Linked DNA regions of Homo sapiens. The protein of the gene in region 4 purifies or fractionates together with the protein of the main gene of each other region. This does not show direct contact. Each region holds a gene or a part of one and is shown on either strand. Other genes may lie near its edges. The genes, in order: TXNDC15, CEMIP2, SUSD1 and DNAJC25-GNG10.

Region 1 (4,246 bases), on a different chromosome or scaffold from region 4:
ATTCTCTTGCCTCGGCCTCCCGAGCAGCTGGGATTACGGGCGCCCGCTACCATGCCAGGCTAATTTTTTTTTTTGTATTTTTAGTAGATACAGGGTTTCACCATGTTGGCTAGGCTGTTCTGGAACTCCTGACCTCAAGTCATCCACCTGCCTCGGTCTCCCTAAGTGCTGGGAGTACAGGCGTGAGCCACCATGCCCAGCCAAAATCATTTTTTTCTTTTTTTTTGAGATGGAGTCGCACTCTTGCTTGCTTTGTTTCCAGTGAGAAACCTGTTGTTATCCTTTGTTCCTCTCTACATGATGTTTTGTTTTTTTTCCTCTGGCTGCTTTAAAGATTTTTTTCTTTGTCACTGGTTTTGAGCAATTTGATTGTGATGTGCTTTGTTGTAGTTCATTGAGTTTGGGTTTTGTTGAGCTTCTTAGATCTATGGATTTATAGTTTTCACCAAGTTTGGAAAGTTTTTGGCTATAATTTCTTCAAATATTTTTCTGTTCCTCCACTCTCTTCTCTTGCCAGTACTCCAGTTACTGTACATTAGACCACTTGAAATTGTCCTACGGCCCACTGATGCTCTTAATTTCTTTCCATTCTTTTTTTTTTTCCTGTGTGTTTCATTTTGGATAGGTTCTTTTTATTTATTTATTTATTTATTTATTTATTTTTTTATTGATCATTCTTGGGTGTTTCTCGCAGAGGGGGATTTGGCAGGGTCACAGGACAATAGTGGAGGGAAGGTCAGCAGATAAACAAGTGAACAAAGGTCTCTGGTTTTCCTAGGCAGAGGACCCTGCGGCCTTCCGCAGTGTTTGTGTCCCTGGGTACTTGAGATTAGGGAGTGGTGATGACTCTTAACGAGCATGCTGCCTTCAAGCGTCTGTTTAACAAAGCACATCTTGCACCGCCCTTAATCCATTTAACCCTGAGTGGACACAGCACATGTTTCAGAGAGCACAGGGTTGGGGGTAAGGTCACAGATCAACAGGATCCCAAGGCAGAAGAATTTTTCTTAGTACAGAACAAAATGAAAAGTCTCCCATGTCTACCTCTTTCTACACAGACACGGCAACCATCCGATTTCTCAATCTTTTCCCCACCTTTCCCCCCTTTCTATTCCACAAAACTGCCATTGTCATCATGGCCCGTTCTCAATGAGCTGTTGGGTACACCTCCCAGACGGGGTGGTGGCCGGGCAGAGGGGCTCCTCACTTCCCAGTAGGGGCGGCCGGGCAGAGGCGCCCCTCACCTCCCGGACGGGGCGGCTGGCCGGGCGGGGGGCTGACGCTCCCATCTCCCTCCCGGACGGGGCGGCTGGCCAGGCAGAGGGGCTCCTCACTTCCCAGTAGGGGCGGCCGGGCAGAGGCGCCCCTGACCTCCCGGACGGGGCGGCTGGCCAGGTGGGGGGCTGACCCCCCCACCTCCCTCCCGGACGGGGTGGCTGCCGGGTGGAGACGCTCCTCACTTCCCAGACGGGGTGGCTGCCGGGCGGAGGGGCTCCTCACTTCTCAGACGGGGTGGCTGCTGGGCGGAGGGGCTCCTCACTTCTCAGACAGGGCGGTTGCCAGGCAGAGGGTCTCCTCACTTCTCAGACGGGGTGGCCGGGCAGAGACGCTCCTCACTTCTCAGACGGGGTGGCCGGGCAGAGACGCTCCTCACATCCCGGACGGGGCGACAGGGCAGAGGCGCTCCCCACATCTCAGACGATGGGTGGCCGGGCAGAGACGCTCCTCACTTCCTAGATGGGATGGCGGCCGGGAAGAGGCGCTCCTCATTTCCTAGATGGGATGGCGGCCGGGCAGAGATGCTCCTCACTTTCCAGACTGGGCAGCCAGGCAGAGGGGCTCCTCACATCCCAGACAATGGGCGGCCAGGCAGAGACGCTCCTCACTTCCCAGACAGGGTGGCGGCCGGGCAGAGGCTGCAATCTCGGCACTTTGGGAGGCCAAGGCAGGCTGCTGGGAGGTGGATGTTGTAGCGAGCCGAGATCACGCCACTGCACTCCAGCCTGGGCACCATTGAGCACTGAGTGAAGGAGACTCCTGCAATCCCGGCACCTCGGGAGGCCGAGGCTGGCGGATCACTCGCGGTTAGGAGCTGGAGACCAGCCCGGCCAACACAGCGAAACCCCGTCTCCACCCAAAAAATACGAAAACCAGTCAGGCGTGGCGGCGCGCGCCTGCAATCGCAGGCACTCGGCAGGCTGAGGCAGGAGAATCAGGCAGGGAGGTTGCAGTGAGCCGAGATGGCAGCAGTACAGTCCAGCTTCGGCTCGGCATCAGAGGGAGACCGTGGAAAGAGGAGGGAGAGGGGGAGGGGGAGAGGGAGAGGGAGAGCTGGACAGGTTCTATTGCTATCTTCAAGTTGACTATTTTCTTCCGTATTGTCTACTTTACCATTATTCTTATAGAGTGCAATTTTCATCTCAGACATTGTAGTTATTATAATTTACGTCTTTAAAAGTACGATTTGGGCTGGGCACGGTGGCTCATGCCTGTAATCCCAGAATTTGGGAGGCTGAGGCGGGCAGATTACTTGAGGCCAGGAGTTTGAGACCAGCCTGGCCAACATGGCAAAACCCCATCTCTAGCAAAAATACAAAATAATTAGGCTGGGCATGGTGGCTCACGCCTGTAATCCCAGCACTTTGGGAGGCCAAGGTGGGTGGATCACGAGGTCAGGAGTTCCAGACCAGCCTGGCCAACATGATGAAACCCCGTCTCTACTAAAAATACAAAAATTAGCTGGGCATGGTGGCACATGCCTGTAATCCCAGCTATTCAGGAGGCTGAGGCAGGAGAATTCCTTGAACCGGAACCCAGGAGGAGGTAGCAGTGAGTGAGATCGTGCCACTGCACTCCAGCCTGTGCTACAGAGCAAGACTCTGTCTCAAAAAAAACCAAAAAAACAAAGACAAAATAATTAGCTGGGTGCAGTGGCTCATGCCTGTAATCCTAGCTGCTTGGGAGGCTGAGGTGGTAGAATCGCTTGAACCCGGGAGGTGGTTGTGCCACTGTACTCCAGCCTGGGTGACAGAGCGAGACCCTGTCTCAAAAAAAAAAAAAAAAAAAAAAAAGAAAAGAAAAAGGCTAGGCCTGGTGGCTCGCTGGCTCACACCTGTAATCCCAGCACTTTGGGAGGCTGAGGCAGGCAGATCACTTGGGGCCAGGAGTTTGAGACCAGCCTGACCAATATGGCGAAACCCCATCTCTACTAAAAAAATACAAAAATTAGCTGGGTGTGGTGGTGGGTGCCTGTAATCCCAGCTACTCAGGAAGCTGAGGCAGGAGAATTGCTTGAACCTGGGAGGTGGAGGTTGCAGTGAGCCGAGATGGTGCCACTGCACTCAGCCTGGGCAATAAAGGGAGACTCCATCTCAAAAAAAAAAAAAAAGGAAAGAAAGCCAGGCGCGGTGGCTCATGCCTGCAATCCCAGCATTTTGGGATGCCGAGGCGGGAGGATCACCCGAGGTCAGGAGTTCGAGACCAGCCTGGCCAACATGGCGAAACCTCATCTCTACTAAAAAATACAAAAATTAGTCAGGTGTGGTGGCAGGCACCTATAATCCCAGCTACTTGGGAGGCTGAGGCAGGAGAATTGCTTGAACCCGGGAGGTGGAGGCTGCAGTGAGCTGAGATTGTGCCACTGCACTCCAACCTGGACGATAGAGCAAGACTCAGTTTCAAAAAAAAAAAAAAAAAGGGTACAATTTGATCTTTTTTTTTTTCCCGAGACAGAGTTTTGCTCTTGTTGCCCAGGCTGGAGTGCAATGGCACTATCTCGGCTCACCACAACCTCTGCCTCCTAAGTTCAAGCGATTCTCCTGCCTCAGCCTCCCAAAAAGCTGGGATTACAAGCATGCGCCACCACGCCAGGCTAATTTTGTATTTTTAGTAGAGATGGGGTTTCTCCATGTTGGTCAGGCTGGTCTCGAACTCCCGACCTCAGGTGATCTACCCGCCTCAGCCTCCCAAAGTGCTGAGATTACAGGTGTGAGCCACCGAGCCCGGCCAATTTGATTGTTTTTATTTTTATTTAGTTATTTTTTTGAGACAGGGTCTCACTCTTTCGCCCAGGCTGGAGTGCAATGGCTTGATCTTGGCTCACTGCAACCTCTGCCTCCCAGGTCGATTTGATATTTTTAATATCTTATATCTTGATATCTACTTTACTTTTTGAATGCAATACAGTTACAATTATTGTTTTAATATCCTTGTCTGCTAATTGTGACATGGGTGCAAGTTCTGGGTC
Region 2 (4,246 bases), about 40 Mb from region 4:
AATATGTATGAGCATTGCATCATTCACCCACCCACCATCCATTCAGCTAGCACTTATTAATCACCTATTGTGGTCCAGACCCTCTGGAAGCAATTGCAACACCTGCTTTGTGGAGCATTCATGTTGGTAAAGAGAAGGAGTTGAAGTGGTTGCAACCCGGGAGGCCACAGGGATTGAAGATACCTGTGTCACTTGCAACTAGAGAGATGACAATCTCTGCTATTGAAGAAATGAGCCTAGCCCCGGACATAAGGAAATGAACAATTAGAAGGTCCAATAAGTGCATGTCTGGGAGAATTACGCACAGAACGCTCTAAGAAGCCAGAGAAGGAACAGTTGGGGGTGGGGGAGCAATTTTGTGAGAAATAAAATTTGTTAAATCAGACAAAATAGTAGGGACTGAAAACTAGTGTCAGAAGTACTATCTTAAAATGGTGAAGATTGGAGGACTTGAAGTCAGACTTGGATTTAAAACAAGGCTTGGCACTTGCTAAACATTTGCTGTGGGCAAATCCCCTAATCCTTCTCACGTTGTTTCTTCACCTGAAAAAGGAGTTTTAAAATGCTTTATGGGAATGTTTTGGGGATTCAATTTGAGTAAGTTTGCTATGTATTAATATATGATAAAGTACTGTACAGGCTAATGCTGTCTGGTATCAAAAGGTACTTTCAAAAGTTTTTTAAAGCTATAAATAGATATAAATCATAGCTTAATCAGGTCTCAGCTACAGATTTTCATTTTATTGGCCCTTTCCAGAATGATCTGAATCCCATCTTGAGAGCAAGTCTTTAGACTTTTAAGCTAGTTACTGTCATATGGTATTGCTCTCTTGTCCAGGCTTCTTCCCATCCCAGCCACAGGAAATCTTTTCATTTCTCTTGGATTGTGAGCATTAGTGAGAAGAATGGGCTGTCTAGTACAGTACATCAATTGAAAAGGTCTTGTCTGGTTTTGTACGGTAACATCCATTCTCCCCTCTGCCTCCCAAGCCAAGCTAGCCCTTCTGTTTTCCTCTCTCTCAATATGATGAATATGGAAAAGGAAAAAAAAAAAAAGGAAGAAAAGCTATGCATCTGCCTTTTTGAGAGTATGAAAATCCCCATTACTAGTTTTCTCCATTTGTAAAGAGGTATAATTTTCATCTAGATTGTTAAAGTCTATTCTCTCAATAGCAGCAGCTGCTGTCTAGGCGAATCTGTTAGCAATACTCGCTTTAGTTCTCCACTTGAAATGGACTTAAGCCCATCTGACATTTTAATAAATTGCCTTTGATAGAAATCCAAACTCAGATATTTAAAACTATCAAGTGAACTGTGCCCTTTTGCCAGGGGTGCGGTGGGGAGGGGGGTAATGAATGTAAATCAGTTTTCTAGACACTGCTACATATGCTGAATCTTAGCATGTCGCTTGAAGGGACCTCAAAGATAATATTAAAACAAGGAAGTTGGGACCCAGAGAGGCTAAATAATTAGGTAAGGTCATATAGTAAATTAATAGCCAAGCAGGGACAAGAACTCCTTTGTCCCTGTTTCCAGTCAGCACTTTTTTTTTTTTCTTTCTCAGATATATTCTTATTTTATTCCTGTTTGGCTTTGTTAGCAATTTAATTAGTTTAATGATCAGATAATTTGTATTTGGGCTTTGAAAGTCACTGCTTTCAGGTTTAAGGCAGACACTATGTATATTTTTTCATTGCCTACTACTTACACATGATGGTGGGGTGATGTTACTTGTAACAAATTTCTGGGAAATAAGGAACTAAGTGTAAAAATAGCATTAGCTTTACTTGTATTTTCTATAAACAGGATGGAAATTTAAAGTACTGTAGATGTGCACATTTTTTAGAAGAAGCAAGTTCCTGGAAACCCTGTTCAGATTTGGCTTGTGAATCATAGAATAAAAGCATACTAGAATATGTTTGCATGTTCTTTTTTTTCTTCTTCAAAACTTATGGCTGTAGGTCATGTTTGCTTGTTCTTTTGTTTTCCTGGTACTTGCTTTGGGAAGCCTTTAATATTGGTTGTCAGGAACTATGTTCAGCAACTATTTTATTGCATTCCTAGGATGTGCAAGGCACTGTACTGGTTGCTGTGAGCAATACAGAGATAAATTAAGCATAGGGTTTTTATTAAAATGTCTTTAAAAAAAGTGAAAGACTCATAAACTGTATGTCTTAAAACACAGAATTGCTATCTCCCAACAAATCAGTCCTTTGATCTATAAGGCAAATCTGCTTTGAAATTGTTAATATTAGGGTAACCTAGTAACCAGATTTGTAACAAGACATTTATTTTCTTTACACGGTGAAAAGTGATAAACCTTTTTACATTTGTTGTATCAAGGGTCCATTGTAGTTTGAACAATAAGTAAAAGTTCAATATTTGATAAGAATTTTATGTGAAAAGTTTGCCTGGTAGAGATTGTGGCATTCTTAATCCTCATATTTTTTAATAAGGCTTTACCACTGGTTAGAAGTGTCATTAGGATGTTGTTGCCTGAAAGAGTTGAAATTTAAGACAATCCACATTGAGCCCATGAGAAAAGAATTGACCTCTGACTGAGTTTCATGTAAGTATCTTAAAACATATGAATATCCACTATAAATTTGATATCGTGGTCAGGTCAGATTAAGTCCCCCTCCAGTGTGAAATTGTTATCGATTTGGGGGCTCTTACTTAATTATTGGTGTGCACTTTGGAGACAGCAAGCCTTCTGTTGTCTTAATGGTCTCTGTAATGGTGATTCACTTCCCTGAAGAATGAATCATTTTTTCACATACAATGAAGTTTGGAAAGTTAATTATTAACATTTTAGGAATGGGAAAGATTTAGCTTAACACAGGGACATATGCCTGATTCCTGTTTCAGGAGGAATTAGAAAAATGAGTTCTTGAGGTTTTCTTTTTTTTTTTTTTAAGTTGTGGTTTGAAAAAACATAACATTAAAAAAATATATTTTTTTGAGACAGGAGTCTCACTCTGTCACCCAGGATGGAGTGCATTGGTATGATCACAGCTCACTGCAGCCTCCACCTCCTGGGCTCAAGCTATCTTTCCACATCTCAGCCTTCTGAGTAGCTGGGAGTACAGGCATGCACCACCATGCCCAGCTAATCTTTATATTTTTTTGTAGAGATAGGGTTTCACCATGTTGCCCAGGGTGGTCTTGAACTCCTGGCCTCAAGTGATCCTCCCACCTCAGTCTCCTAAAGTGGTGGGATTACAGGCGTGAGCCACTGCACCCATACTAACATTGCTTTTTAATGCCACCAGTGCCACCACTATAAAATCAACTTTATATGAGGATTTGAAAAATATGCTTGAGCAGGGCTTGGCTGAGTCTGAGGTTGGCTTTAATCTTCAAGTGTTTTTTCTTGCCTCCTGTTAGTGCTTGCAGCACTTGGGCTTGTCACGTAGCCCCTGTTTGCCTGTTATGCTGCTGCTAGCCAGTTTTTTTTTTTTTTTTTTTTTTTGGTGACGGGGCTGGCATGGGGTCTTGTTAGGTTACCCAGGCTGGAGTGCAGTGGCTCTATAGTAGTCCTAGCACACTATAGTCTTGAACTCCTGGGCTCAAGCCATCCAACTGCCTCGGCCTCTAAGTGGATGGGACTACAGGTGCACATCATTGTTCACCTCTTCCTAGCCACAGTGTATCCCTATTCGGCTAAGTGAAGTCCAGCTGCCACTCTAGTGCTGAGTAATTACTTGTTCATTAGAAGTTCTGCCTTTTGACTCTGTAGCACCCTTGAGTCTTGAGGAACATAGAGGAAACTGTTGAGAATGTGTAAGATGGCCCTTTTGTTTGGCTTAGGTTTCACGTGGCCTAGGAGGAGAGGGACTATGACTGTTTTATATTCTGGCCTGGAACTCACCTGCAGGTGACACCCTTTCAAAGAATATGAAAGACTTCTGTAGTGTGTCACCCTCCCCTCCCTCCCATACTTTTTAGTCACTATTGGGCAACGTGTCGTCATTTAAATGGCGGAGTTCAGTGGTAGACTTTAGTTTACACATGCAAAATAAGAAAGATATTAGTAATCGTCTGGTGGTGCACATTTGGGTGAGTAAATTTGCCAGGGCTTTTAGAAAATTAAGCTCTATTCCATTCATAGGGATTTAATAAACTCAAGCAATCACCTCCTCAGCCCACCTTCTTTGCCTCAACATTCAGTTTAATTACTTGTTTACTTGTGTTGTCTCCCTACTCTTTCTACCCCCAAATGCTGGGCTGTGAGCTTCTTGAATGT
Region 3 (3,753 bases), 410 kb from region 4:
TGGAGCGTCCTCAAGCTGTCACAAAGTCTGAGAGTAGAAATAGGGCCTTTCTAACTTCCTCTTCAGCATGTGATATTTCTATCAGGGAAGGGGTTAAAGATAAGTCCAGCAAGGCCCCATCACTCCTCCTGAGCACTAGCTCTCTTGAGGGAGCCACCATAAAGAGAATGGTGAAGTTTAGTCTTAATGGACTTACTTTCTCCAAGATTGAGTAACTGATGTGGGATATAACACATGAGTGATTCACTTGGGTTTGTAAAAAAATATTCTACAAGTGATTCAGAAGAAAAATAAACATGGTTCTCTGGCATGAGACCATGGAAAGGTAGGGTAACCAAAGGATGGTGAGGCTATAAAAAATACAATTCAAATTTGCCAGTTGTAAATTTTCTTATTAAGGAATTAATGAGGAAAGTCTCTAAAGAAGCTTGTGTGGCAACACTTGTGAGCACTCTTGATTAGATTGACTCAGATTTTTAGAGTATATATGCAAAGTAGACAAAAAGACATATAACCAGGAACTGATCTACCAGCAAGAATCATTCCTGGAGCCAAACCCAAATTGTGCTATGCAGAATAAATAAAGATCATTTTCCAATACTATGTCTAGAGTAAGGAATAGTTGTGCCCAGGTAGATCCTGCTGGTGGATGGTCAAGTGAAAGTCAGCTTCCTTAACTCCTACTTAGCTTTTGTCCTCTTCGTTTGTGAGGGGATAGTTAGAAGAAAGAAAAGAGCTTGCTACCCTACATAGGTTCAAGTCTTCCAACATGGATGTAGCGTATTCTGGCAGGTTCATACAATTTTCACATGAGATGGATAAACCATTGCAAATGATCTTCAATAAACCTTGAAGAAAATGGAGAGATGTAAGAGGACTAGAGATGAGCAAAGAACAAGGAACTTTGTACAAAGGAAGAACCACCAGAAGTGTAGATGATGGTAACTTGAAGTCAAGGCAAAGCAAGGTCTTCAAGTGATGGCTTGTGTATCCCTGGTAGAAAAAACAGCAGTTCCCGGGAGTCAGGAGCTTTAAGAGCAGATTAGGTCAGATTGCTTTCCATTTCTTCTTGCACAGAGTCAGTAATTGGTCAGGGAAATATGGCACGCATAATAACAATAATGTCCTTGTGGACAATGTGGGGACATGAGAGCTGTATGTGGGCTTAGAAACAAGCTGAATGGCTATGCACAGTTGATATCAACTCATTAACAATTATTGATGAGTTGAAATCAAACCCAAGAATATGCATGATATGGATTTCTGTCCACAGTCATCTTCAGTTCAACATATTCATCAATCAGTGATTAAAATATACAGAGGGTTAAAGTGTAGAGGAAAAAATACACAGAAAAAAACTTGATGTCAGAAGTTGGAAGGAATACTGGGTAGATCGGATGAAATGCCAGTGCAGTAAAGTACCAGCTCCCCCGTTCATCTCCAGAATTGTATTTTCTCTTAAAAACAAAACAAAACAAAACAAATCTAGTTAATTAGTCCACCAAGATGGCATTTAAAAAAATGTTTCTGAGTCATGCACAAAGATGGCATCTTAATGCCTTAATTTGCATTTTTATTACTTGTAAGAGAGCATTTGCTCAAAGTTTTATTGATCATCTGTAATCATGTTTTTCATGTGATTTACCTTTTCGTAGAATTTTCTCATTTCGCTATTGAGGTATGTCTTTATTAATCTGTAACACTCTCTGTATGTTAACTTCTTGCCCATTATTCTAGATATTTTATCCAGCTTGCCATTTGCCTTTTAATCTTGCTTATGGTAGTTTTTGGTATAAGAAGTGCATGCTTTTTAAAGTGGTTAAATCTCTCATTCTCTTAAGGTTTCTGTGTTAACGAATATGCTTAGAAATTTCTTACCCCCTTTAATATTAGGTAAATATTCACTAACATTTCCTAATCCTTTTAGGTTTCAATTTAAGTCTGTAATCCATCTGGATTTTATTTTGATATATGGTGTAAGCTCTAGTGATCAAAATTATTTGATTCTAAATGGTTAGCCAATTTTCTCAGCACTGGTTATGAAAAATTTATCATTTCCCCAATGATCTGAAACAGTATCAAAACAACAAAAACAATAATAATTAACAATAGCTAACATTTGCTTATTGCTTATTCTGTGCCAGGCACTGTTTCAACCTGTACTAACTCACTGACTTCTCCCACTACCTAGAGGTGGGTAGTATTGCTATCATTCCCATGTTATTACAGCATCCCTCAGTGTGGGGACTGAGACACAGAATGGATGAATAACTTGCACAAAGTCACACAGGCAGTGGTGGTGTTCAGATAAAGACTTGGACATCTGACTCCAGTATTCAAACTTTGAAAGTATTTGATATGCTTGGATTTGTTTCTAGGCTATTTTGTTCCAATGTATTCATTCCTATTCTAATACTGCACTGTTTTACTGTCTTGCAATTCAAGTCACTCTCCTAATATTTTTTCTTTACTAATTCTTCACTTAATCACTGTTTCTCCTTCCATTTTATAATCTAGTTTCTTGGCTGGGCATGGTGGCTCATGCCTATAATTCTAGCACTTTGGGAGGCCAAGATGGGCAGATCGCCTGAGGTCAAGAGTTCGAGACCAGCCTGGCCAACATGGTGAAGCCCTGTCTCTACTAAAATACAAAAACTAGCCGGGCGTGGTGGAGTACACCTGTAGTCCCAGCTACTAGGGAGACTGGGGCAGGAGAATCGCTTGAATCCGGGAGGTGGAGGTTGCAGTGAGCCGAGATCATGCCACTGCACTCCAGCCTGGGTGACAGAGCAAGACTCTGTCTCAAAAAATAATAATAAATAAAAATAAAATAAAACAAAATAAGTAATCTAGCTTCTTAAAGTGTCAAGGCCATTTTTCTTCTATAGACTAAAAGCAACCAAATAATATAAGCCATGTTTTCTAGAAAGGCTCTTGGCAGCATTTTTTGAGAATTAGTAACCGCCCAATGAGTTTTCCTTGCCTGCTGCCTAGACAGAGCTGATTTATCAAGACAGAGGAATTGCAATAAAGAGCTTAATTCACACAGAGCCAACTGTATGGGAGACTGGAGTTTTATTATTACTCAAATCAGTCTCCCTGAAAATTCAGGGATGGGGTTTTTAAGGATTACTTAGTGGGTAGGGGGTAGGGGATGGGGGGGTCAGTGAGTCAGAAGTGCTGATTGGTTGGGTTGGAGATGAAATCACAGAGTCGAAGCTGTCCTCTTGCACTGAGTCAATTTCTGGTTGGGGGCCACAAGATCAGATGAACCAGTTTATGGATCTGGGTGATGCCAGCCGATCCATGGAGTGCAGGGTCTGGAAAATATCTCAAGCACTGATCTTAGGTTTTACAATAGTGATGTTAGCCCTAGGAGCAATTTGAGCAGTTCAGAATCTTGCAGCTTCCAGCTGTAGGACCCCTAAACCATAATTTCTAATCTCATGGCTAATTTGTTAGTCTTGCAAAGGCAGTCTAGTCCCCAGACAGGATGGGGATTTGTTTGGGGAAAGGGCTATTATCGTCTTTGTTTCAAAGTTAAACTATAAACTGAGTTCCTCCCAAAGTTAGTTCAGCCTACGCCCAGGAATGAACAGGGGCAACTTGGAGGTTAGAAGCAAGATGGAGTCAGTCAGGTCAGATCTTTTTCACGGTTATAATTTTCTCGGTTATAATTTTTAAAAAGGCGGTTTCAAGTTCTGCAGGGCTGTTTAACACAAGGTGTATTCTATGGCTGGTTTTACTAGTGCC
Region 4 (4,962 bases):
ACATGGGATAAAATGACCCTTTGCAACTTGGCTTTCTCCAGTTTCATCTCCTACACTCCTTACCTCTACTCCTAGTCATATAGGTTGTCTTTCATTTTTTGAAAAGCTTTATTATTATTTTTTTCTTGCCCATGGCTCGTTTCTCTTCTTGGTACTTATTTCACACTCCCTTGTCCCCAAACTCCTCTCTAATTCACATCCTTCAAGCCATTCTCTATTCGTCCTCCAAAGTCAGTTTAGCTGTCAGCTCCTACTGGAATTGATGCTTGTAATTGATCCCGATCCTAATAATTTCAGGAGACCCTCCCATGTGTTTCCATTCATTTTATCTTTCTCATTATATATATATATAAGCATATATATAAGCCATATATAAGCATATATAAACATATATGAGATACAAATGTAAATAAGCATATATGATACACAAAATTGTTATTATATATATAACTTTTGTATCTCATTACATATACATGTATCTCTCTCATTACATATATAACTGTATATGTTGCTATATAGTCCCATGCAATATTTAGTGGGCTGAGGTGAAAAATAGACACATATATGTTATATATGTAATGACAGAGACATATATGTGTAATGAGATTATATATATTATATATGTAATGAGGGAGATATATGTAATGAGAGATATATATTTATTCAATGAGAAATACAAAATTATAATGTATATTCATTATGTATTATAAGTATATAATGCTATGTATCAGTATTTGATTTCACTTTATTAAAAGAGTTGATTATATCTGAACGTTTATTTATTTGTTACTGACTGTCATCCTCCATCAGAATATATGCTCTCTGAAGTTGAGCTTCTTGTTTACTTTGCTCACCACTGTATCCCCAGTGCCTAAGTAACAGTGCCCGGCTCAGAGTAGAGACTCAATAAACATTTACCAGATGAATGATAGAAACAGATTTTTTGAGGCAAAGTTTTTCATGTTGCCATATAGTCCCATGCAATATTTTGGACATACTTATACTAAAAAATTATTATCTGAAATTCAAATGTAGGCCGGGCACGGTGGCTCACGCCTGTAATCCTAGCATTTTGGAAGGATCGCTTGATCCTTCCAGCAGGTTGTCCCGGGAACGCGCAGCCCAAGGTGGACGCACAGACCCGCGTACAGAGATTTTTTATTGTCATGACTGGGGGTGGTGGCACTACTGGCATTTAGTGTGGAGAGGCCAGATATGCTGCTAAACATCTTACAATGCAAAGGGCAGCCCCTCAAAGGCAAAGAATTATCTGGTCTAAAATGTCAATAGCGTGGAGGCTGAGAAAAACTGAACTAGATGGCTATGAACTTTCAGGGTCCCTACCTAGTACACAGGCAGCGCCTAGAATTGCTAAGTTCATCTTCCGTTTGGAAAGGCAGCATGGGGTTAGTGAGAGGAAGGCGCCCGGGGCTGGTGGCTGGCTTTAAAGGCCTACGTGCAAATCTTCTTGACGCTGATAACGGGATGCGAGAGAGCCAGGTAGGTTACCTATTGCAGCAGGTCAAGTGATGATGTCGAAAAGGATGCGTGTGCCGGACACTGTGGAAGGTAAAGCGCTCCGCACAGCCCGCCTAAGTGCGCCCGGGACAGAGCCATCCCCCAGGTGCTACCAAACAAATCCTCCAGCTGCTGGTACGGGGAAGGTGTTCAGTGACACACCGGAAGCAGCCTAGTGGCTGAGGCGTCCTTCTCCCTACCAACGGGTTGCGAAGGAAGTAGTTGCTGTAGCCGCGCCCTGTGCGCCTGCGCGGAGGCGTCGGCTGCTGACGTGTAGCTGGGGCCAGACGGGACTAGCCGGGCGCGCGGCTGAGTGCTGCAGAATCGCTGGGGTGGCAGAGCCGCCAGCGAGGCTGGGGATGGGGGCGCCGCTGCTCTCTCCCGGCTGGGGAGCCGGGGCTGCCGGCCGGCGCTGGTGGATGCTGCTGGCGCCCCTGCTGCCGGCGCTGCTGCTGGTGCGGCCCGCGGGGGCCCTGGTGGAGGGGCTCTACTGCGGCACGCGGGACTGCTACGAGGTGCTGGGCGTGAGCCGCTCGGCGGGCAAGGCGGAGATCGCGCGGGCCTACCGCCAGCTGGCCCGGCGCTACCACCCTGACCGCTACCGGCCCCAGCCCGGAGACGAGGGCCCCGGGCGGACGCCGCAGAGCGCCGAGGAGGCTTTCCTGCTGGTGGCAACCGCCTACGAGACACTCAAGGTGAGGCCTGCGGGCGTGGAGGGGCTTCGAAGACTGGCCGCGGGAAGCCCACGGCGCCTTCCGACCCCGGTCCGCGGAGCGTGGGCCTCTGTGACCCCGAAACTGAGCACAGCCACCACCGCGACCTTTAAGATACTCACGTTTCCCACGTGGCCCTGTGAAAGAGCCGAGTCGGCCCCACGGGGCCTTGGGGGGCACAGCTAGCCTCCTTGCCCTCTTCCTTTTTGTGACATTGTTATGCAAAACTTTGGCCATCTTACGATTTCGTGAAAATATTTTAATAACGTGCATTTCACATTCGAAAAGCAGGGTGATCATTATTAGTAGGATCTGGGGTAGCCCACAACAGGGAAAGTCTCGAATATCAAGTGACAACTGTGATCGCATCAGTTTGATATGACAGAAAATTGGTTTCTGGAAATAGTGTTAATGGTGACGCTTAGTTTGGGTTTAAGGAACTAAGAAAACACTGAGAAGAACAATGAACACCAGTCAAAAGGCTGGATGTGAGTCTTTGCTGTGACACCCCTGTATGACCTTGGATAGTGACTTATTATGTTGAAATAGCTGTTTCTTCATATGCAAAATTAAGGCCATGATACCTCCTCTCAGAGTTATTATGGGGATTAAATGATAAGTGTGCGAACCGCCCCCCTTTCCATAGGATCCATAAATAGGTGCTTAATGACTTGGGTACAAAACTCTGAGAATTTCTAGTAGGAAATATTTTGTGAATATGTATTTGTATTTCATTTGACAGGTTTTATTGAGTCTTGTGGGGATGAGAGATTTAGCCCGATGCTGTTTTCTTCTACTACTGCAAAAAATCAAACCATCTAGGACATCACGAAGTATAAATCGTACTTGATGGTGGTATTACTGCTTGAAGGGCCCCATCATACTAATGCGTCAGCGATTGTAGTTGTAAAGTATTTCTTTTCTAGCCTTTTTTTTTTTTTCCCGAGGCAAAATTTTCTATGTTGCCAGGTAGCCTGCTTTTAATGATTGTACTTTGAGTGGATATAATTTTACCTTGGATTGTTCCTCCAGATTGTTTTTCCAGAGCTGAAAATAGTCAAGGAGCTAACAACTTTATTGATGCCTTCCAGAGCAGTTTGGATAATTTGGAGTCATAAAATGAGTGGTGGAGGGGCGGGCCCTGAACTAGGTAAACTAGGTGAATTGAACTAGGTAAAATTTAATTTACCTAGTTCATTAAATTCTCACTAGCGTTAGTGAGATTGTAATTTTTATTGGCAGTTAACTGAGGGATGGCTGGGGAACTGGGAAAGTGCTGAGGCCCCAAAGGGCTTTGTTGCCGATTATGTAAAAAGTGATGGAAAAAAGACTCCAGAAAAAATAGGAAAGAACTCTCCATCCAAGGCACTTCAGCATATGAAGCTCCAACCTCTGTTCCTTGTAGTCAGCCAGAAGCCCTGCTGGTGCGTGAGGGAGCCCTGGACCAGTGTGTGAAATCATAATGGGATTTACTAGGGATAGTAAAATTGATAGGATTAGGGATGTTAATCATGTTAATTTGTTTCAGGCGCGAGATGGTAATAAGGTTGTGGTGCTTGAATTTAGGTTGAGTGTCAGGAATGCAGTAGTTGTTAGGATGATATAGATAATTAGGTTAAAGATAGTGATATTTGGATTGTATATCAGTTATCCCATTATGATTTCACACACTGCTTTATAAACTAAGACCATGCAATAGTATTTAGTGTGTTTGACTTTTGGGGATTTAGGGAGTTTATGGACTTTGGAAGTTAAACAAGTGGACGCTTACCCTCTGTGTCAACCCATCTTCTGGAAGATGGAGAACTTCCAGAAGAGAGGGCAGCAGAAACACTGCCAGCTGTTGCCTTCTGCTGGGCTTTGTAGGAGTGGAGATGAGTAGTTTTGGCATGAGAATGGTGAGCATGTTGGTAAGAACTTTGAAAACAAGTGCCATGATTAGAGGGTAGAAATAGTGATGGTAGAGATTCCTGCTGGGAGGGCCACCAGGAGAGACTGATCAGTGCCCCCATCCCGGAACTGATCTGATGAATCTATATGGTTGCCTCTAAAGGTTTCTACCCCTAAAGTTTACCACTCATTGTCAGCTAATGAAAAGCTAGATAAAATAAGTGATCCACTCAAGATCAAGGAACGTTTAGGCAGTTAAAGACCAGTATGTCTGGAGTAGGTAACACTTGTACTCTTGACTCTGACGGGTTTGTGATAGCTACAAATATCTTGGAACAGGGGAGTGGAAGTGGAGTTGTACTGGTGGAGGAGGGAATGAGGGGAGTGTTCTGTAGCTCCCCCAGAACGCCCACTGTCTTACTGTGGAAATTATCTGTGAGACAAAAGGGATGTCTGGAGATATTTTGGACCCTGGAAAATCAGACCCAGCAGAACTCTTTGAAAACTTGCATTTTAAATTTATGGAGATGAACATATATTCATCTTCCAAGTGGAGCACCTCCAAGAACTATTTACCTCATTGAAGATGCTCTCTCTTGGAATAAGGATAAGGACTTTGACTTGCTGTCTGTGGGAGCAATTATTACAGGGTGGTCTGCTTTAACTTCTGTCATAACGGAGAATTGTGAGGAAGTTGCCAAAGAATATGTTTTCTGGGTAATGCAAGGTTTTAATGAACTGAGGTCATCCAATTTGGAGGGCTTCAGCCTTGCACATTATCCGTTGAGGCAATGGAGATGTAATGGCTGTTTGTTTGGATTGTATCCTCCGGCTGTAAAAA

What was found.
Region 1: the proteins of DNAJC25-GNG10 (region 4) and TXNDC15 purify together in Homo sapiens (affinity purification with mass spectrometry, with the first as the bait; one large-scale study listed by BioGRID). This does not show direct contact.
Region 2: the proteins of DNAJC25-GNG10 (region 4) and CEMIP2 purify together in Homo sapiens (affinity purification with mass spectrometry, with the first as the bait; one large-scale study listed by BioGRID). This does not show direct contact.
Region 3: the proteins of DNAJC25-GNG10 (region 4) and SUSD1 purify together in Homo sapiens (affinity purification with mass spectrometry, with the first as the bait; one large-scale study listed by BioGRID). This does not show direct contact.

What each region holds. Positions count from the first base shown.
Region 1 is NC_000005.10:134,880,541-134,884,786, forward strand, and holds part of TXNDC15 (thioredoxin domain-containing protein 15 isoform 1 precursor), read left to right. Parts: intron 1-4,246. UniProt on the Homo sapiens protein: Acts as a positive regulator of ciliary hedgehog signaling. Involved in ciliogenesis.
Region 2 is NC_000009.12:71,761,730-71,765,975, reverse strand, and holds part of CEMIP2 (cell surface hyaluronidase CEMIP2), read left to right. Parts: intron 1-4,246. UniProt on the Homo sapiens protein: Cell surface hyaluronidase that mediates the initial cleavage of extracellular high-molecular-weight hyaluronan into intermediate-size hyaluronan of approximately 10-5 kDa fragments.
Region 3 is NC_000009.12:112,042,870-112,046,622, reverse strand, and holds part of SUSD1 (sushi domain-containing protein 1 isoform 2 precursor), read left to right. Parts: intron 1-3,753.
Region 4 is NC_000009.12:111,629,531-111,634,492, forward strand, and holds the start of DNAJC25-GNG10 (DNAJC25-GNG10 protein precursor), read left to right. Parts: upstream 1-1,803; 5' UTR 1,804-1,877; coding exon 1,878-2,213; intron 2,214-4,962. Other genes in the region: DNAJC25 (dnaJ homolog subfamily C member 25 precursor), read left to right, coding at 1,878-2,213.